2 separate regions of the Homo sapiens genome follow, and region 1 is linked to region 2. Evidence: fine-mapped expression QTL. Tissue or cell type: whole blood. Region 2 holds a variant in brackets; the other region holds the start of a gene. All regions are shown on one strand. Distances are from middle to middle.

What was found. PIP is the estimated chance that this variant, and not a neighbour inherited with it, causes the effect.
Region 1: REELD1 starts here. The variant in region 2 is fine-mapped to the expression of REELD1 in whole blood (TOPMed, PIP above 0.99).

Annotation. Positions count from the first base shown.
Region 1 is chr4:146,209,432-146,220,393 of GRCh38, forward strand. It overlaps REELD1 (reeler domain containing 1), which reads left to right and starts at 5,107. Exons shown (of 8, transcript NM_001354631.1): 1 at 5,107-5,263; 2 at 5,645-5,767; 3 at 7,511-7,729. The coding sequence starts at 7,522.
Region 2 is chr4:146,185,082-146,196,043 of GRCh38, forward strand. LSM6 (LSM6 homolog, U6 small nuclear RNA and mRNA degradation associated) reads left to right here. Exons shown (of 4, transcript NM_007080.3): 3 at 2,193-2,306; 4 at 4,541-6,454. The coding sequence ends at 4,575. Among named protein-coding and RNA genes, the nearest start is that of LSM6, 15 kb to the left of the region's middle. The variant A/G (reference allele first, on the strand shown) is at 4,699.

The sequences.
Region 1 (10,962 bases), 24 kb after region 2:
TACCAGCCCTGGAGGAGTGAAGACTATGTGTTATTCATCTTTATATCCCCTGCCCAGAGCCCATGACCTGCACTTAGTAGGCATTTAATAAAGGTTGGCTGAAGGAATGAATAAATGCTCAGAGTACATTTCCAGTGTAACTAAAATTGAATGCCACCAACTCCCCTCTTTTGGACATAAATTATAGTACTTGTCCAGACTCCCTAAATGCCAATTTTTGATCCCCACTTTGCCTCCATACAAAAGGTCTCCAAGTCTTACTTCCATTTACTCTCTCAACATCTCAGTCCCCACTATCCTGCGTCAAATGCACCTCATTTTATGTCTGGATAATTACTACAAACACAGCTAGTGTTCACACCTTTGTTCAAACTCTCTCTCCTGCTTTGAATATCCTTTTACCCATCTCATCTGTCTAAACTCCACCTAACCTCTAAAATCAACCATATTTTCCTGATTCTACTTGAAATATTCTGGCATCCCAGACTCTGGTAACCTGGCTTTTATCTCTCTTCTGATCATAGCTTGTTTACTGCTCTGCATCACTGCTAGAGAGCATCTAATCCTTACAACACCTTTGTGAGAAATCTAATAGTCTCCCCATTTTGCAGATGGTAAAACTGAGGCTCACCAGCATTAACTTTCCAAGGTCATGTAACTAGTTTGCTGTCTGACTTCAGAGCTCTTTCTTCTTTACCTTGCTACCTCACCCCAAGTAAAATGTCAGTTCCTAGGGAGAAGATCCTGCCGATACTTTATCAGCAGACTCTCTTGCAAGTTGCTTTACAAATAGTAAGAATTCAAATATTAATTAACTTAGAAATCCTGTTTGACTGTACTGTTCTTTAACAGGGATAATGAAGGAGAGGATTATTGGGTAGAATAAAAGCACTAGGCTGGGCACAGTGGCTCACACCTGTAATCCCAAGATTTCGGGAGGCAGAAGCAGGAGGATTGCTTGAGCCCAAACAGGAGTTTGAGACTAGCCTAAGCAATATGGTGAAACTCTATCTCTACAAAAAATACAGAAATTAGCCAGGAGTGGTGGCACATGCCTATATTCCCAGCTACTCAGGAGGCTGAGGCTGGAGGATCACCTGAGCCTGGGAGTTGAGGCTGCAGTGAGCTGTGATTGCACCATTGCACTCCAGCCTGGATGACAGAGTGAGACCTTGTCTCAAAAGAAAAAAAAAAGGCACTCAACTTTTTTTTTTTAAATGGCAGAAAGTGCACAGTAGCATGGAGGATGATGCAAAAGTCAGCAGACCTGCTAAACGTACATGAATGACCATTGACTTCCCACTTTCATGTAGAGTTTAAAGAGAATTGTATTTTTCTCTTACATAGATTATCCCAGCACTCCAGAAATCTTCAGATAGTTTTAAAAAATCTATCTAAACATTAAAATGCTAATCACAATGATGATACTGGAATAGCAGATTTCTATGTAAAAACACCAGTCAATCTCAGCAGGAAGTCATTACCAAGGTAGGAAAAACATTTGGATAGGAAAGACTGTTCATGAGTTACAAAAGCCATTATCTTCATCTCCAAGATCTTTGAAAATGAAGAAAATGTCCACTTGTCTGCTGGAGTGAAGGAGCAGGAAACAGGACTAGAATAGTGAGCTCAACAGGTTCCTCCTTCATTTGCAAACTTTTCCAAGGCAGACTCTTAAACCAGGAGTGAGTGTGGGATGGTGTCAACGCAGGTTATAATTACGTGCCAGACTTTAATGCATGCCATCTCAAGCTGTTTTAAGAGTAGCTCATTCTTATGCCTTTATAACTAAAATAAAACCTTGAAAATGTGTATCATTTTCTTGCTGGAAGAAATAGAAGAGATTATTTAATTCAAACCTTTTTATTTTATACCTGAGGCAACCCAGAGAAGTTAAGTGATTTACCGAAGGACACAGAGTATCTGATTTATAACCATAAAACCCACCCCAAGACTTTCCCTTGGTATGACGTTAATATTAACTGTTCTACTCAGGGCCAGGGGATGTTAAGGTAACAGATTCAATCATGTTAATATATCAAGTCCAGCCAAATTGCTAGTGTGAAATGACCTCAAGCAGATTCCCAAAATAAAAGCAACAAACAAACAAAACACAGTATTTTCTTGCTTTCCGGGTGCACACAGCTGGGTCTCCTTCATGTGGGTGGGGATTGGAGGCCAACTCACTGCTGTCTCTCGGGCTTCGGGCTTAGCGCATGATCTGGCTCAGAGCCACACTCTCTCACCGCCTCCTCTCCGTGGTGGGCACCAACCCTCTCTGTGGCTCAGCCAGCTTTCTCTTTCCCCAGACAAAACAGGTACAGAGCCCTTCCTTTGTCTCAAACCCCATACTAAGTACCAACTCCTTATTATTTATTACCTCACTGAAACTTCACCAGCACTTCGGGATGCAGGTACAGGAACTGGTAGTTATCTTCATCTTGTAGATTATGTTACAAAGCTATTCTATAGCAAAACTGTAGGGAAAAACCTTATCTATCACTTCCTGAATGCTGTGGGAACTTTTGGCAAGTTACAGAAACACTGTGACTCAGTTTCCTTATCCATAAAATGAGATAACAATAGTGCAGACCTCATTGTGTTGCTGTATCGATGAGGTAATTTGCCAACTAGCTGACTAGAATAGTGTGTGGTACTGTGCAGGCATTATATAAATATGCTGTTATGTTTAATTACTATCCTGTCCCCTCAATGCCTCTTACACATCCTGCACGTGGTACAATACGGCCTCAGGTCTGACCCCACACCATGACCTATGGCTCAACCACCTTCCTTTGTACAGACCTGCGCTGATAAATATGGTAGCAGCTTACCACATGTGGCTCCGGAGCACTTGAGATGTGTCTAGTCTGAATTGAGACGTGCTGTAAGTGTAAAATACCACTGGATATCAAAGACTTACTGTGAAAAAAAGAATGCAAAATATCTCACTAATGATATTTTATATGCTGATTGCATGTGAAATGTTTTCAATATATTGAATTGACTAAATTTATTATTAAAACAAATGTCTTTTGTTCCTTTTCACGTTTTTTAAAAATAAGGAGAGTCCAATTTTTTTGTTTGTTTGTTTTTGAGACAGGGTCTCACTCTGTCGCCCAGGCTGGAGTGCAATGGCAAGATCTCAGCTCACTGCAACCTCCACCTCCCAGGTTCAAGCAATTTTCCTGCCTTAGCCTCCAGAGTAGCTGGAATTACAGGCACGTGCCACCATCCCTGGCTAATTTTTGTATTTTTTGGTAGAGATGGGGTTTCAACATGTTGGCCAGGCTGGTCTTGGACTCCTGACCTCAGGTGATCTGCCTGTCTTGGCCTCCCAAAGTGCTGGGATTACAGGCGTGAGCCCCTGCGTCCGGCCTAGAAAATTTTAAATTACATATGTGGCTTGCATTCTATTTCTATTGGCCAGCACTCGTATAGAGTAGCCTTGTATGTGTTCTTGGTCAGATTCCCAGGGAGAGTTTCTGTCTCAGCCCTGAGTCAGCAGGGCCCTCGCCTGTGATGAATGCCCCCCTGGTACAATCAGCTTTGTCGGGAGAGTGGCATAAGATGCGCTGCCGGCTCAGCAGAGGCTGTGGGTGTGGCAGGCAGGATAAGGCCATGTCTAAGATATGGTGTCCTCCTGATTTTCAACAAGAAATATTACATGAGCAAATGGCAGGATTATTTATTGAGCCATGCAGGTGCGCTCTCTCTACCTTTGCACTCCTCTCCTCATTCTAATTGGTAGTTGGGCCTTTTGAGAATCCGTATATCCAGGGAGTTTGTGTTTCAGGGGCAAAGCTGAGGTGTTGGAGATTACCACTCTACCTGTGGTAGGTGGATTATGCCAGGTGGCCCAGGGTAATGGGGTGAGAGTAAAAAAAAAAAGGAGAGGAGGGACACTTTTGTCTCTAAGACTGGGATAGGAGCAGAGTGGAGTGGAGAAGAGGTTAGCCACTCTCCTGCTAGGGGCAGAGATCTGTGTCAGGACCCAGTGGAGGGGGTGGGAAGAACCCAGGCCACAGCCTTGCTGAAGACCTGAGCCCCTTTTTGGCATAGAAGCCTTCCAACTAACAGTCTTCAAGTGACCACATGAGCTCTGAAAACTATCATAACAGCAGCCATGGAAGGAATGTATCCTAATTTTCTAGACCTCCCAGAATTTCTCATGACTCAGTGGGAGATTGAGATTGCCTCCAATCCTAGTGGGATAGAAGCTTAGAGAAACCAAATTGAATTTGTTTGCTTTTGTTCTGTGTGTGGGGAATACTGGTATCCTAGGCCAAGGAAGCCCAATTTCCCTTGGTGTTTATAGGATAGATAGTCTCATTTACACTTGCAACAAAAGGCTTAGCAACCTGGTCCCTAAGCCAGTGCCTTGCCTATTCAGTCACTCATAGCTTTAGTTTTTTCTGAGTGGAGACAAGGCCTAACAGTCAGAACATTGCTCTCTCTGCAGCCCCCTACTCCACATCACCCAGGACTATCAATCCTAGGATTCTCTCTTGGACGCCTTGCATTCAAACAGCCACCAAATCCTACCTCCACCTGATCTCCTGATCTCCCAAATCCATTCCTCTCTCTTTTTCTTCATTGTTAATGTTGCAAGCTTCTAGGTGATGCTGGTGTTGCACTCTAGGGACCACACATTGAGGAACACTGATCTATAGGCTCTCTGGTATTATCAGGTGTCTCAGCAGATTCTTAGATGAATGAAAATGTGAACTCCAGCTTTAGTGCAATTGATACGGGAGGTGCCTATGCCACGTGTTATTTTTTTGTACCAAACGTTGCTCTTGGGCTAACGTATCAATTCTATTTCACCAAGAGTAACTTCAGTCCACACTGACTCAAGAAGCCAAGAATGCTGAGATGCATTTCATTCAAACATTCTCCCCTTTGCAGGGAGATCAAGATGGAGGCATCCAGCTTCTGCCAAGGATGTCAGTGCCAGTCCTGTGCAAAACCAGTTCCGGTTCTTTCTAGTTCTTCACGCAGGCTTGAACAATGATGTGACTGTAAACCGTGTGTGTGTGTGTGTGTGTGTGTGTGTGTGTATGTGTGTGCTAATACGATTTAGGTTGGATTTGGACACTGAGGAACAGTTCCTGGAGATGCTGAGGATTAGTGGTAGCAGCTGTTATTCTCCCCATTAGAGGAAAAACTGAAAGGAGAAGAAAATACTTATGTTTAAGGGATGTGTTTGCAACTCTGCGGGAGGAAGCCATTCTATCAAGCCTGAAGAAAACTGTGTTCCTAGGTAAGTGGATGTTTTTATTTATTTATTTTTGTAGAGACAAGGTCTCCCTGTGATGCGCAGGCTGGTTTTGAACTTCTGGCTTCAAGTGATCTTCCTGCCTCGGCCTCCCAAAGTGCTGGGATTACGGGTGTGAGCCACCATGCTCAGCTCCAAGTGGATAGTTTTCAGGGTTCAGGTAGACAAGATGCTAGTGGGAAAGAAGACACAGTGAAACCTAAGGCAGGAGGGTGGGAGGTGGGGCTGTGGCCGTAGTCTGTGAGTCCAGGCACTCACTCCCCTTCCCTTGTAGGCAACTGTGTCTGATCTGCCTTTGGAAAGACCACTTGCCATCAGCAAGGACTTGAGGAGCATTTTCATTTCATTTCTTTCTTTTCTTTTAAGAGACAGGGTCTTGCTCTGTACCCAGGCTGGAGTGTAGTGATGTGATCATAACTCACTGCAGCCTCGACCTCCTGGATTCAAGTGATCCTCCTGCCTCAGCCTCCTGAGCAACTGGAACTATAGGTGCGCACCACCATGCCCAGCATTCAAGGGGCATTTTGTATGTGGCCCTTATGAAAGAAAATGAGAAGAACCCTGAGCCCCCTTGACTGAGAATGTGCTTTTACACAGTTCATCTTCATTATCTCCTAATGTGTCTGAGAAGCTGTAGCCATGGTTCCTTGTAGTATGGAGATGTGTGACTTTGGTGCTTCATAGAAAACAAACTTAGAAAAGAAAGGCATTGTCTGAAGGACTCTTATGTCTAAGAAATTTGAGGTATAGATCATATTCCTGTCTTCTTTTAGCTTGTGAATGTAAAAGGTGGTGTTGTGTGAAGAGACAATGGGAGTGGAGGACACTTGATTATTTGGTTTATGGATTATTTCCTTAGTCTATTGTTCTGATAGCTAGTTTTACTACATTTTCAGGATTTTATTTTCACCTTTTAAAACCAGCTGACTACAGGGGAGGGCATTTTTTTTTTTTTTTTTTTGCCTTGCATTGTTCCTTAGGTCAAAAAATTAGCCAAACTTCTAAAATGCCTGTGTGCAGGACTATAAAAAAAAAAACAGAACTTTTTTTTTTTTTTTTGAGATAGAGTCTCGCTCTTTTGCCCAGGCTGGAGTGCAATGGCATGATCTCAGCTCACTGCAACCTTGGTCTCCCAGGTTCAAGCAATTCTCCTGCCTCAGCCTCCCGAGTAGCTGGGACTATAGGCACATGCCACCACACCCAGCTAATTTTTTGTATTTTAGTAAAGACAGGGTTTCACCGTATTGCCCAGGCTGGTCTTGAACTCCTGTGCTCACGCAATCCACCTGCCTCGGCCTCCCAAAGTGCTAGGATTACAGGCGTGAGCCACCGCACCTGGCCTAAAACAGAACTGTTAAAAAATGCCTGTGATAATCCTAAATATTTATGTAGGCAGATTTTCATCTGCCTTGTTTGCTATCTCTCATTTTATTTTTGTCATCTTCTTTTACATTGCCAAATTTTAATTCTTCCTCTTGATGGGAATTAGAGGTAGTAAACAAAAATAAAATTTACTCTATAAATGCTATTTTATTCAATCATTGTATTCTATTCCTGAGCCAAAATTGTTATCAGTATGTTTAAGAAGTTATAGAATAAATTGAGTATTTCTTTCTCTGCTCATCTTCTTTACTAAAAGTAGTGAAATAGCTAAAAACAGCCAAAGAAAGGGCAAAGAGATATCAAAGCATTGCCAGCTTAACAGTCACTTCTAAATAATTGATAGTTGGTAGATGTTTTGTAGCACTTAACTTGGTAATTTTCAATTGCAACAGAGATAAGATGCTCAGCCAAGCCATCCCATGCCATGCTGCCTGACCATGGTGGTGTATTGAGTGTCTACTTCAGATAATGTATCAGAGGCCACACCGCCTTTGGGTACCAGTCAGCTTGCAAGGAGCTCACGCTAGGATACAAACATTTTCTGGTTTTATTTCTTTGACTCAATAATTAAAGCCTCTCTTTTGAACAACAACAAAAAAAGCAGTCTGGTCTTATGAGAAAATTACAAGAACAGAAGTTTTTAAAAAGGTGTTTGGAAATGAAACACTTCCTATAGCCTGGCATTTCCTTTTGATCTTGGCCTTGAACATTAGCAATCCTGGGAGGCTGCACTAAAAGCATCTCAGGTACAGAGGCAGTGTGGGGTTCAGGTTAGTCACATCCCGAGAAGACTTTATGTCGTTTTCCTAAATAACGTCTGGACTGAAGCTGCTGTTTGTCATGATACAGGAGAGGGCAGGATGAGGATGCAGGCTGCCCTCGTGGGCTGGGCTTGTACCACCCTCTGCCTGGCTTCCTGCTCATCTGCCTTTTCCCATGGTGCCAGCACGGTGGCCTGTGATGACATGCAGCCCAAGCACATCCAAGCCCAGCCTCAGCACCAGGACAGCCACCACATCACCATCCACACCCACAGGACTTCCTATGCACCAGGTGACAAGATTCCAGGTATGTACCAGAGAGGCTTAGAGAGACTCCGAGGAGCCCCAGAGCCCCCATGGACCTTCCAGTTTGTGTTTGTCCCAGTCAGAAGCTTCCTGGACTAAATTTGGCTTAATCCCTTTTTTTTGTTTTTTGTAGAGATGGAGTCTCACTGTGTTGCCCTGGCTGGTCTGAAACTCCTGGGCTTAAGTGATCCTCCCACCTCAGGCTCCCAAGAAGCTGGGACTACAGGCACATGCCACTGTGCCCTGCTAATTTTTTGTATTTTTTTTAGAGACAGGGTCTTTGTATGTTGCCCAGTCTGGTCTCGAGCTCCTGGGCTCAAGTGAACCTCCTGATTCAGCCTCCAAAAGTGCTGGGATTACAGGCACAAGCTACCATGCCCAGCCTGGCTTAATCTTAAGAAGCAATTATCAGGTTAAAAATAAGCATAAAATATTTGTGTCATAAAAACCACATGATAACTAATCTCTGTATTAATTGTGATCTGTATAAGAAGACACAAATATTATTATAGATAATTATTTTGTCCTTACCATAAGATATAAATGTATCTTATTACGGACACAAATATAGTTACTCTGAACAACCTTCATGTATCATCTATGTGTGTGAAATACACTTTTTTCTCATTATTTAAAACTAAAATTCATCCATCAACAGACACTTTGGTGAGATGATGGATATTTTAATTTGCTTGACTATAGTAACCATTTCACTATGTGTAAGTATATCAAAACATCATGTTGTATACTTTAAATATATACAATTTGACATTTTTTAAATTAAAATATTGGGGGATGAAAAAATCATTTCCTGTTCTTTTAGTTTAGGTGCCTATAAAAGCAGGGAAAGAACGTGAGCGCAGGTGGTTTATGTGAGAGATCATCCCAGGAAACACAGGTGAGGAAGAGGGAAAGGGAGCTGGGCAAGAGGAGATGCCAGTCAAGGGCGTGCAACTGAGCAGGTCTCTGCTGTGGGCAACCGAGGTGCATTCCAGTGGGGACCCTCTGAGAAGCCATGTGAAACACCTCTGAATCATCTCTCAGGAAGATGCAGGGGCAGGGAACTTACCAGTTTCGGGTTGCCCCCACCAGGGGTGTTTCTACCTCCATGCCCCGCCCCCACTCCCCAAACTCACACACACTCTTCAGAGTCCACAGCTTACCTTGGACCAAGCTTGGAAGTGGCAGTGAGGGACAGCAGAGAAGGAAGCTACAGATACTTCAGATGCCACGAAGTGTAGGCAGAGAACTATGCACCCAAGGTGAGCTCCAACACATCAGCAACTTTTGCCCTAAACCCCTCTTGATTTTTGCTGATTCTTTTGATAGGAACTAAAGGTGATAAACAAAAATGAAATTTACTCTATAAATATTGTTTTACCCATTCATTTCGCTCTCTTGAGAAGTGTGAAAAAACATGGGTGGATAGTATATGAGTTCAACATCAATATACTCCCCAATATACTGAATTAAGTCTATTCTAATAGAGCTTCCCAAACTTTGTCACATCATGACACAGAAAGTGAGTCTGTGTATTTAGCACACCGGGGCAAATGCAAGAGGCTCCCCAAGGAAGGCCACTTCTTTGGGGGCTCCATCCACCCTAGAGTGCATCCAGCCCCTCCCAGCATGAAGGGATTGGTATGTCAGTATCCTAGTGTTCTGTGGCTAGGGGAATAACAACGGTAAGAATCAAAACACTATGTCAGCCAGGCATGGTGGCTCATGCCTGTAATCCCAGCACTTTGGGAGGCCAAGGTGAGTGGATCACTTGAGCTCAGGAGTTTGAGACCAGACTGGGCAACATGGCAAAACCCTGTCCCTACAAAAAAAATACAGAAATTAGCCAGGCATGGTGGCTTGTACCCTGTGTTCCCAGCTACACTGGAGGCTGAGGTGGGAGGATTGCTTGAGCCTAGGAGGCAGAGGTTGCAGTGAACTGAGATAGCCCCACTGCACTCCAGCCTGGGTGACAGTGACAAAGTGAGACTCTGTCTCAAACAAACAAACAAACCCCAAACCAAAAAACCACTATGTCAGTGAGAAAAATCTGCAGAAATAACTAAAAATATTGTGATACCTAAATTCTGAAGGTATCCTGAGGGAAACACAATTGGATTGTAACTGGAACCAAGACAGCATATGTAATAAATGACTTGACAGAGTGCCTCATGGATTCAATGAGAGTCAGTTATTACTGACTTACGTTGCAAGTATACTGTTTTCTTGCCGGGATCTGTGAGCTCCTTGAAGGTAAGGACCATGTTATCCTGCTCATAGATACATACTCAACTCCTAGCATAGTGCTTGGTGTTCAATAGTTCTAAATATTTGTTCAAATGTTTATTAAGAAAAGTTCAAATGTGTGGAAAATAAAACAATCCTAGACACCAAGCTGCATTTAGCAAACTTATAAAGGTCTGACCCTGATTTTAGCCACTCATTCCCTTGAACATGAGTGGCTTTTTTAAAAAAAATTTTAAATAGCTTGAAGATATTACATGCTTTAAAAATGTTAGAATACTATCAAAAGGTAGAAAATTAAAAGTACTTTTCCTTCTCTGGCTCTGAACACTCAATTTGATTCCCCAGAGGTAACCTTTGTTAAGTTTCTTGCACCTCTTTTCAGAAGTTTTCCATGCATTTAAGCATATGTGAGTGAGATCTCAAATTAATATAATCTTAAGCAGACACAAATTAAATGTCTGTTTAATGTTTATATTTTTTACCTAACAATCAGACTGATATATTTTATTGGATACAGAATTTTGTTTTTTTGTTTGTTTTTTTGTTTGTTTTTTTAAGACAGAGTCTCACTCTGTCACCCAGGTTGGAGCGCAGTGGCGCAATCTTGGCTCACTGTAAGATCCACCTTCTGGGTCATGCCATTCTCCTGCCTCAGCCTCCCCAGTAGCTGGGACTACAGGCACCCACCACCACACCTGGCTAATTTTTTTGTTTTGTATTTTTAGTACAGATGGGGTTTCACTGTGTTAGCCAGGGTGGTCTCAATCTTCTAACCTCGTGATCCACCCGCCTCAGCCTCCCAAAGTGCTGGGGTTACAGGCGTGAGCCACCGTGCCCAGCCACAGAGCTTGTTTTTAATGATTTCATGACAGTCCATTGTCTAGAGGTCGCATGATTGATTTAACCAGTTTCTTATTTATGGGTATTTACTTTTTAAATTTTTTTCATAAATGGTTTTGATGGATATCTTTATTCATATGTCTTTGC
Region 2 (10,962 bases):
GACCAGTTTTTTGCCACTATAAACAACTCTTCTACTTTGACATATATTGTGAAGTTGACCAAACATCTCTTTAGAATCAATTCCCTGGGCTAGGATTTACAAGTCAGAGAGTATTCCATGGCCCTGCATCAGGGAACTTGGGTTTATCCTTCATGTTCTCACCAACTCTTGTATTAGCTTTTTTTCATCTTTTCCAATCTAATTGGCAACAAGTAATATCTCATTCTACATATATTTTCTTTGTTTACTAGTGAGATTCAGGAGTCTTTCACATGGATAGTAACCATAATTTTTTTTCCTCTTATGAATGGCCTTTATACTATTAAAGCAAAATGTTTTATACTATTAGATAGCCTTACTAAAGGAACGTGCTTATTTTGTGGTTTACAAAACCCCAAAAAACCCCAAAGCAAAACAACAACATACCAAAAAAAAAAAAAAAAGAAAAACTCCAGCAACTCTCTGTAGCAGTTTCTCTTTGAGAAAATGTCTTGTTTTTGGTTTTGTATAGTAGTTTATCTCATGGAAGGAAAGGGTTGTATTTCTAACCCCCTGGGCAGTTTTTTTGTTGTTGTTGTTGCTTGTTTGTTTGTTTGTTTGTTTTTGCCTTTGCTGTGAGAATAGATATTTTAATTAGAAGTGAACTCTTTTTTTTTTTTCTTTTTTCTTTTTTGAGACCGAGTCTCACTCTTTCGCCCAGGCTGGAGTGCAGTGGCTCAGTCTTGGCTCACTGCAACCTCCGCCTCCCAAGTTCAGACGATTCTCCTGCCTCAGCCTCCCAAGTAGCTGGGATTACAGGCACCTGCCACCATGCCTGGCTAATTTTTGTATTTTTAGTAGAGACGGGGTTTCGCCATGTTAGCCAGGCTGATCTTGAACTCCTGACCTCAAGTGATCTGCCAGCTTCTACCTCCCAAAGTACTGGGATTACAGGCATGAGCCACTTTGCCCAGCCTGGACATTTCATTTTGAAATTCTTTTCATTGGTTTTCAAACAGGTTTGCATATTGTGCCTCAGATTTTTCTTGCTCATTTATAATTGCAGTTTGTATGTAAAATAGTACAGCAGGAAACGAGCTAAAGTTGTAGCTTAAGCTTTCTTTTGCTAGGAAATAATTTTATTATTCACAGTCCATTCTCGTTCTTTGAGAGTTTACCGCTTTTAGCAGAATTCTGGTAGATTAATGTCTTTTGCTGTCATTACACAATTTTGAAAGGAAACTTTTTTGTTTAGAGGATAATGGGGGCAGAGGCAGAGAGTGAGGAGCATATTAATGAAGTTAAGACATCAAATGAGAAACTATAGACTCGACTGAATTGAATCTAGTATTTGTTTTTACTTAAATTTTTTTTTCTAGGAAATACCACTTTAAATTAGAGACAGAATTAGAGGCTTACAGATTTTCATCTTTTGAAAAAGATCATCAGGTCAAATTTTACAAAATTTATACCATCTTAACACAATTAAAGATTGACTCAAACTGTTTCCTTGAAAGCTCCCTCGAATGTTTTTGGCCATTTTCTCTATTAGTTTTGATTGGAAAATATTATAGCTGTAACAAAACAGAACAAGATGTGTTATAATGCAATATGTTGCCCTATATTCTCAAGCTGCTCTTCACTGTGAGTCACAGCTTTAAGATGTTCTTTCGGGAGCACCTGCTGTCTCCTCTTCTATTATTTTAACAGATTGTGGAGACTTCCTTTTAACCCTGGAGTACATTCATCTGCTGCAATAGATGTTGTAAAAGAATGAAATAAATCTGCCAGACCCGTATTTCACTTAGTGGCTAAAGTAGGAAATGCCACTGGAACCAAGGATCATTTGTTTATGCATAATTGCCCACCTTGTGCTTAGCTTTCAAAGAATGGTATTTTTGCCGGAATAGTCTTATTCTCTTACTTTTTTGAATGCTTTAAAAGTTTCTGTGTGGTCATACGTACCATGAGGGAAGTGACAGTTTGTTGTTTTACCGGGTAGTAGTGGGTGCGTGACTGCCTTCCTAGACTTCATTCAGATTGGCATAGAGTTGTTTTGTGCTTAAGCTGTTGAGTTTCATTTATGGTGTGAATTTTTATATTAAGCATCTAAGAACTAATGAATAAAGAGATTGTCTGCTCTAAGGTATACCCTGTAATTTTCAACTCTTATTTGCCTTGTGTATCTTCTTTTTGACTAAATATGTCTGCAGGGGTCCTGGCTTGCCTGGATGGCTACATGAATATAGCCCTGGAGCAGACAGAAGAATATGTAAATGGACAACTGAAGAATAAGTATGGGGATGCATTTATCCGAGGAAACAATGGTAACATTTCTTCGCCCTACAGTACAGCATTCAAAATAAGCCTTTCTATTTATAATCCAGATCACCAAAGAGGTTTCTAGATAATTTAAAAGTCCACTTTTAGGCTTGATTATTTTAAAATGCTTATATGTCAGATCTTCAGTTTGACCAGTTATTTTGTAGATGCTTCATGGAATTTTGAAACCAAAATTCTCTCCTTCCCTTCCTTTAGTGATGAGGAACTGAGGGACATTGTTCTCCTTACCTGGAACCCTGCTTTCTCGAATATAGTGTAGTATATCTCCCCAACACATATTCCTGCTTCTTGTAGCCTGGAAGTTGGAGATGTAAGAATGGGCACCGTTTCCCTGCTGTCTTTGATTTGCATAATTTGGCAGTTCGTCCTATTTGTCCCTTCTCTATTAAACATTCAGATGCTTTCTATGCAGATTTGCATCCTTCAGTTTGGCAAAAATGGCAAAATAGAAAAAGTTACTCAGTTTTTAACAACTAATAAATTGCTATGATTTTTATAGTTATTTTTAAGTACCTAGTTTAAAAATGAAAATTATAATAAAGTCATATTTGTATTTTTGGTGGGGAGGGAAAGATATCAGAATTATGAGAATTACCCCACTTTTTGGTTCCATCTCCCAGAAACTCTGGGATTCTTGAGTTCAGATTTTTTGTTGATTTCTTTAATTCTGGATGTCTTCAACCCCCTAAATAGTTGGATCTCTTTGCTATAAACTAAACTTCCTGACTTTTATAATAAGAGTCTGTCCCCTATGCTTACAGGACCTTATTTCTTCATATCATATTTTTACATACATTATTTCCTGGCTTTCTAGTCCTTTCTATTTATAGAATTATTTATCCTATTTTTCATATCCTTATTTGACCTCCTCTTTTTCCTAAGAAATGTTATGATCTTGTCTCACCTCAAGACAGCTAATGGCAGCAGTCACTGGCAGGTTGGGTTCTGTGCGTGTTGATAGGGTAGATCCTTTAACGTGCACACTACCCCTAGGACTTGGGGGGCAGGGTTGGGGGGCGGCTGTACTGGCATTCTGATGCTTCCCTTCATGTCACATTTCCCATGATGTAATCAGTGACACTCATCTTTAGACTCCCAAGTTCACATCATTGGCTCTTAAAGAGGATCTTGACTTATTTGATTCATCTGTGCTATGTTCTTTGATGAAGACACCTTACTGTTCGCTTTGAGCAGACCTCTCAGAAGCCGAGTAGGCATGGAAGGTGGAAGGGAGAACCACCTCTAGTTTGGCCAAAGTGACCCAAGCATTTCATTTTGTTTCATTCCTACGGACCACACATCCTACGAGTTCATGTTGGTAGTCATGAGAAGACCACTAAGCAGAACATTAGGTAACACCAAAGTATGAGACTTTTAACGGGAACTCAGAATAAGGACTTTGGTATCATTAAAAAATAAAAATAAAAAATAAACTCCTTAGCTCTTGTTTATCCTGTTGCATTTAAGAAGGTAAACAGCAAGTTTAGAGTTTGTATTGGGGAGACAGATGAAAATATGTTGTTTATTCTTAATTTGAGATCTAGCCTGGTTAGATTTACTGATTTACTTTCTGAAAAGCATCTTTTTTTTTTTTTTTTTTTCCTGAGATGAAGTCTCGCTCTGTGGCCCAGGCTGGAGTGTAGTTGTGCAATCTCAGCTCACTGCAGCCTCTGCCTCCCAAGCTCAAGCAGTCCTCCCACCTCAGCGTTCTAAGTCGCTGGGACTACAAGTGCATATACCACCATGCCTGGTTAATTTTTTGTATTTTTGGTAGAAACGGGGTTTCACCATGTTGCCCAGGCTGGTCTCAAACTTCTGAGCTCAAGTGATCCACCCGCTTCAGCCTCCCAAAGTGCTAAGATTGCAGGCGTGAGCCACCGTGTTCAGCCCTGAAAAGCATAATTCTTATACTTCTAACTATAAAGCATTCTTAGATACCAGGGACTTTCACATATATTTTATTTTATCTTCCTGGTCACACTTTAAAGAGTCAGTGAGACACATGGATGAAATTAGGACAGTTTTGTAAGACATCAAACCTGGGTGTAGATTCATAAAACTAGTCTTACAGTACTTCTAGAGTTAATTGAATGATACGAGAATTCCTTTTAAATGTCAGATGTATCAGACCAAAATCTGTTGGCTTTTAAACTTGCTACTATGTATACTTACAAGCAGGGTTTTTTAAATTTCAATTTATGTATTTTTTTCTTTTCAGTGTTGTACATCAGTACACAGAAGAGACGGATGTGAAGACACCAAGAGAGCAACGCTTTTCATAGTTGGATATATTTTTTTATGAATTTTTTCTAATTTTTGCTTCTTTTGTGATACAATTTGTCCTCTTTTTATAATAGTTGGTGATTTTTCACTGAC[A/G]TGTGAGTAAGATAAATGTATACAATTGTGGATTTAATTGTGAAATGTTCTTTCACTTGTAAGTTTCAGTCATTTTCTTTTACCTCGTTGTCAGTGTACAGAATGCTAAAATAATTAAAAAAAGACAAAATATACCTCTTCCTACAAGATTATTTAACTTAAGTTTCGAGAAGTGTCATTTCATTTGACTTGCTTTTCTTATCCAGCTAAAATGATGCATATATTTTATATATTGTATGGACATATAATTAAAACATTTTGGAGGAATCCTCCTTTATTGCATCCTTTTCTGTTCATACAGAATCCTTGCGTGAATATGTTCTACAAAGGCATCCAGTTTCAGTCTGAAGCTACAAAAAGGGGCCACAGGATCAGAAGTTCAGCCACTGATTGAGTCACCTAAATAAAAAACAGAATTGGAAAGCCAAGAGTGCCACTTGCACATAAGGAGTGGGAATTCGAACTGAGGTGCTGGAGAAATCCTAAAGATGAACAAGATTTCAGTGAGGAGAAAGCCCTCCTGTCAGTGGTCCCCCTGCATCTCCTTATGCAATTAGACTTTTTAGGTTTCCCTGCTCCCTTTCAGGAGCATTGGCATCAACGTTATTCTCTCAGTTTATGAACACAGTAGGGGAGGGGCCATTCCTGTACATCTCTCACAGTCAGATTAAAGCAAAGCCTAGAGTTTGTAAACATAATTCAGGTTCTAATTGCCGAGCTGAGATTGGGAAAGAATTTTTCCTAACTCTGGTCTAGCAAGTGGCTGTAGGGAGGCCTTTCTCAAAAATCAGCTGTATTTGCCTTTGACATTGTCCAGGAGCAGAGCACCAGGCTTTATGTTGCTTGGCACAAGGCAGCTCCTCTGGTTATGTGACTCCTGCTGAGAGGATTTTCACAATTTATTAATGAGCTTTCCACAACCCTGCTTTATTCTCCAAACAGTTTTACGCTGTCTCTAGGAACAACAAATATATCTGGGCACTGTGGTTGAATGAATACCAGACAATTGTGTGAATGTTGTATTGGACTTCCTCTTCCCTCCCTTCCCAATCTAAATAGCATTCCTATTTCAGGAGCCGATGGTGTGATTCGAAACAACTGCTTGGTTGAAGGATGGGGGGCAGGATCGAGAAGGAGAGAGGGAAGGGGCAGTGCTGATTCTGGAGAGGTGTATGTAGTGTTTTGTCTTGGTTTATTTTAAAGATCAGAGAGTAATTGGAAACAATTATTTTTTAATTAATAACTTGGGAAAGGTGAACAGAAGCATTTCACAGGGTTTTACCGTGTGCACACTGAAAATAAAACACTTTATGCTATGCTTCAATAATTTATCACTTCTTGACAGGGGCTTGGAAAAGGTCCAGTATGTAAGTACAAATCACCAATTTGCTCTTTTATAAATGAGTTCTTTTAAGGAGAAAATGGATGGCTCTCCAAGTGGAGCATACATGTTCTCATTTGTTTTGTAGAATATGTGGGGCTGCAGGTTATTGTGTCCCTTCATTCACTTATATCAGCCACCTCTAAAAGCAATTCCATTGTAGTCTCCCACTAATCTGTAGCGTCCTGTTTTTTCTAACTTCTTCCCTGACCTCGCCTTTGATATATAAGTCTTTATTTTCCCCTTGCCATCTCTCTAGTTTAATAGCTCTACAGTGGAGTACTGTTTTCAACCATGGAACTACTTTTAATCAAGATCAACTTTGGGAAGTGCTGCCATTTTTATGGTAATAAAGGACTGTATTATGCACTTGAACCCGCTCAAGTTGTCCCCTGTGTATACCTTCACATAGTAGAACCATGAAACAAAGTGTAAATGCTTAAATTGCTTTGTTCTTAACTGTAGTCTCCTAGAGGTCAGTGAATGATTTCTAGTTGCATTGTAGCGAAGACATTTGTTCCAGGTTGAAGAATTTTTTACTTGAGAACATACATTTTCCCTGTCTGTGTGCCCCCAAACCCTGTCTGCCACACTCTTTCTCTTGGGCTGTGACAAAACAGAATGTTTAGCGAGAAACAAAATTGTGCTCGATTTTCAGACTATCTGACTTCATTTTCTGTTTTGGTCTTTGAGCTATTCCTTGGCTAATCTTCCAACAAGTCGAATTGATTCTTATTTCAAAACTGTTTATCCCAAAACAGAGCTGTTGACAAGTACAAATACAGATGGCAGACATGTGGTATGATTTTCATGTTCTCATCTCAGCATTCAGGAAGGGAATGTTATTGAAAGATGGTTTACATCTGAAGCTTTCTGCTCAAGGCAATATGGAATGCATGCTAGGAGCGCTTAATTATGCTTAATTAATAATAGTAACAAATGCTTACGGGATTTCCTTAAGGTCTAAAAGTGCAGCAGCATTGGACTTGCTGTGTAAGGCTTACCGCCCCGGAGGCTATAATAATCTGTAACAATAGAAGCAACCTCTAGGGGGTAAAATTGTCTTTGATAATCACTGACTCTTGGGTGACCTCAGTACAGCATTCCAGGCCAAAGATCCAGAATGTTCCCTTACTGGGGGCAGACACGCCTATGATTGCACTGACCTTTGTCCTCCGAGCAGATGATCCTCCAGAGTACTGGCTAGCTCTTAGATTCAGAGGTAAATCCCAGCCCATGCTGTGGCCTTGCTGTTCCCCACAGCCCAACTGCATTAACTATAATTTTTTTTTCTCCACAAAAAGAAATTGTTGGTGAAAGGAAGACAACCTTCAGTTTTTCTCCCCACCGACCTGGTTTCAGGAGGCCGTGTGCTCAGTGGAGTGTCTCTGCCTGTCTTCGCTAAGCTTGCCCCTGACCATTGTGGAGGTAGATGCCACCTAAGAGTGGCAGGGTTAGTCCTGACCTCTGGGGTCTGAATATCCAGCAACTATCTTAATTCCAGTCGCTGCTGTCTGTTGTACCACCAGTACACAGCAGTACAGCTGTGTCTCTGTTGTTGACCGACTAACTTAGATTCACTGTTGAAGTCCAATTAGCCAGAGTGGGGGTGAAAATGCAAGAGTGGACGGTGAGAGTGGTATGTGTCATGTACGACAGGACAGTGGAGAGAGCCCTCTCTGATACCTGTTAGTCCCTCCTTTAAAAGATGCGGGAGGTGGCCAGGGAGTGGGGATTTCAGAATGTGGTGGCAGAAATCAGTTTGGCATTTATTGGATGACAGCTGTAGGCAGGCACTGTGCTATACCTTAGGGGGGTAGATAAAAAAGGAAATATGACATTGCACCTTCCATACTGAGTTTGTAGGTTTGGGTATTTATGGGGGAAAGTGGTACCCTCCATCCTTTTTTTAAAAAATTGGGCCAAAATTGTAAGAATTCTTTTAAAAACCTGAACATTTTAGATGGATTTGAGCATCTCAACTGTATGTTCGTATCTTGAAATTCCAAATAAACTCAGGAGTGGATAATTCTGAAATCTGAACGTAACTATGCCCTGTTTACCCACAGGCCCAGGTAGTTCAGCCTCCCATCTTTGTTTTTTTCCTTCTCCTAGAAAAGCCAGCTTTTGTGTGGTTTAACTGAACAGTCATGTTGGATTTTTTTTTATTTGAAGACCCATTTTGACTCATCTGCAGCACTGAAGGATTTTCTTCATAGTAATTTGGGAGTTATAGCAGATAGAAAGGCAGAGGCATATTCCAGGAATTTCATGAAATATAAAACACTGAAACACTTGGGATAGGCTAGTTTTCAATGCCTAGGTTACACAAATGTCCAAATTCACATGGGCTTAATTTATTCCAAGTTTTATAATGGGATGGATGTTGGTGAGTTTGGCAATATACCAATAATTTGGATTAAAGGAGAGGTTAGTTTATGAAAAGTTTACGTAACAATCTTAGGCAATTTTATTACCATCATGTGCATACGGTATTTCAAGTCACTATTCAGTGTTTATATCAAATAGACGTTTTATTGAACTTGGAAAAATGAAAAAATTAAAAATGTGTAATATGTACGGTAGAGTGGATGTTGCTGGGATACAGGGCTCCTTATACCCCGCCCACAGTAGTGTGTTAGTCACAAACCCCAAATCTCAGTGGTTTGAAACAACTAATGATCTTACTTATGCTCCATGTGCACAGGGGCCCATAGGTGGGACTCCACTGATTGCAGTCACCTGGGGGCCCAGGCCGAGGGAGGTAGCACCTTATGTTTCCACCATCTCAACCTGAGGAATCAGCATCTGCTGTGGCAGGGGAAGGGCAGAAAGGATCACTCCCTGGCTCCTAAAACCTTTTGCTTAAAGCTAGTGTCACTTCTACCCCATTATTAGGCAAAGCAAGTTACACGGTCAGGGCTTACTTTAAGTTTTCAGAAAAGTATAATCCTTTCATGGACCCAGGAGAGACAACCAGAAATACTGGTGAACAGTGGTAGTAACCTACCACATGATGTGTACTAGTCATGGTTCCTCCAGAGAAACAGAACCAATAGGATGTATAGAGAGATTTTAAGGACTTGGCTCCCACAATTGTGGAGGCAAGCCCAAAATCTGCAGGGTAGGCTGGCAGCCTGGAGACCCAGGGAAGAATTGCCACTCAAGTCTGAAGGCTGGCTGCTGGAAGAACTCCCTTTTCCTCCAAGGAAGTCAGTGTTTTCCTATTAATGCCTTCAACTGATTGGATGAGGCCCACCCACATTATGGGGGGTAGTCTGTTTTATTTACTTTAAATAGGTCTACTTATTTAAATGTTAATCTCATCTTTAAAAAATAGCTTCATAGCAACATCTAGAGTAATGTTTGACCAAATATCTGGGTACCATGGCCTAGCCAAATTGATACATGAAGTTAACTATCATGGTATGTTAACCATATCCTTTGCATTATACATTTTCTTAATCATTAGTAAAGCATTCAGAAGTATAAAGCATCGGTGTGATTTTTACTATATTGAAAAAAGAATTCTTTCTTTGTTAAGACTTGGGTTGAGGGACCTGTGCTCTTGGTGTCTTAATCTATTTTTCATTAGATTCCAAAGAAAATAGTAACTGGTTTCTTCATGGTTTCAGAAGCTGAGTCTGAATAGATTGTTTTGGTTTGGTTTTGTTGCTGCAGTTTAATTTACAATTTTCCAATTAATATATTCCTATATTTAAAAGAAAATGCAGAAGGTGACCATCTTTCATTAGACCAGGTAATTTTATCTCAAGCCAACCAAATGTGTTCCATCCACATACTGTGAGGAGATGATCATGGAGTCTTTAGTATACCTCAGAACTTGCCTCATGTAAAATGTGTCTCAAAGGCACAGGGCATGTTACAGCTAAAACTTTACCTTATCACTTTTCATACAGTGGGTTTTTATGGCTCTCCCTTTTCAGTATATTCAAAACTCTTTACAAGTATCTTCCTCCTGAGAAAGTGCATGTGTTCCTGTCTTGTTCAAAGATGTCCCATCAACAGGACCTGATCTCCAGTTTGCTTTTGTCTTTTTCCTAATTGTGATATTCTTGGCAGAGCCTGCTTCACACCCTGTTCCTTGTCCCCCTGGCACTGACATAGATAGATTTCTGAGATGATTTCTCCATGCTGGGAGTGCAGTAGAGGAGACTCATGAGGATCAGACCTCCACCTTGGTTTCATTAGCCAACTAAGCTAATCCTCACATTCTCCTCTCGTAGTCACTGAACAAGGTAGTCCCTTTTTCCACATGAGGAAACCTGAAGCAAAGAGGTTAAAGTGACTTGCCGAGGGTCACTTGGTGAGTCGCTGCAACTACAGTAACAGTTCCTTCTGCTATTTGATCAAGTGCATAGGTGTGGGCTCCATTGATTTCTTCTTCTAGCATGCATTTAATTAATAAATCAATCTTCTCTTCTGATTCATCCTACCAGTAGTCGAATGAAGAAGGTCCCAAAGTGTGCACACAGACTGCTGTCCTCTACATTCAAAGATGATGTTGCTGACAGTGATTTGCTATCATCCTGCTTGAGTGTGACAGGAAATATCAATAGTTGGCCAACAGCCCTTTATACACCGGGCCAAGGTAGAAAACTGCTCCTTGGCTTGCGTCTGCAGGCACTGTTTGCAGAGACTAGCAGTTTTTGAGATGACTGTCTCTTAGAATTTGTTTTTTCTTCCCTGGAGTCTCTCTAATCCTAATTACTACTCAACAGGCTGTTTCCCAGCAGCCGTTTGCTGGACCTTTGTGTTAGAAGCTGTGCATCATCAGACCCAGTAGGTCTGTAGGAGAGAAGTGGAGACAGGCTGTGTGTGCATCTGAATCGACTTTCCCTCCCTGGGCAATGCTGACTAAA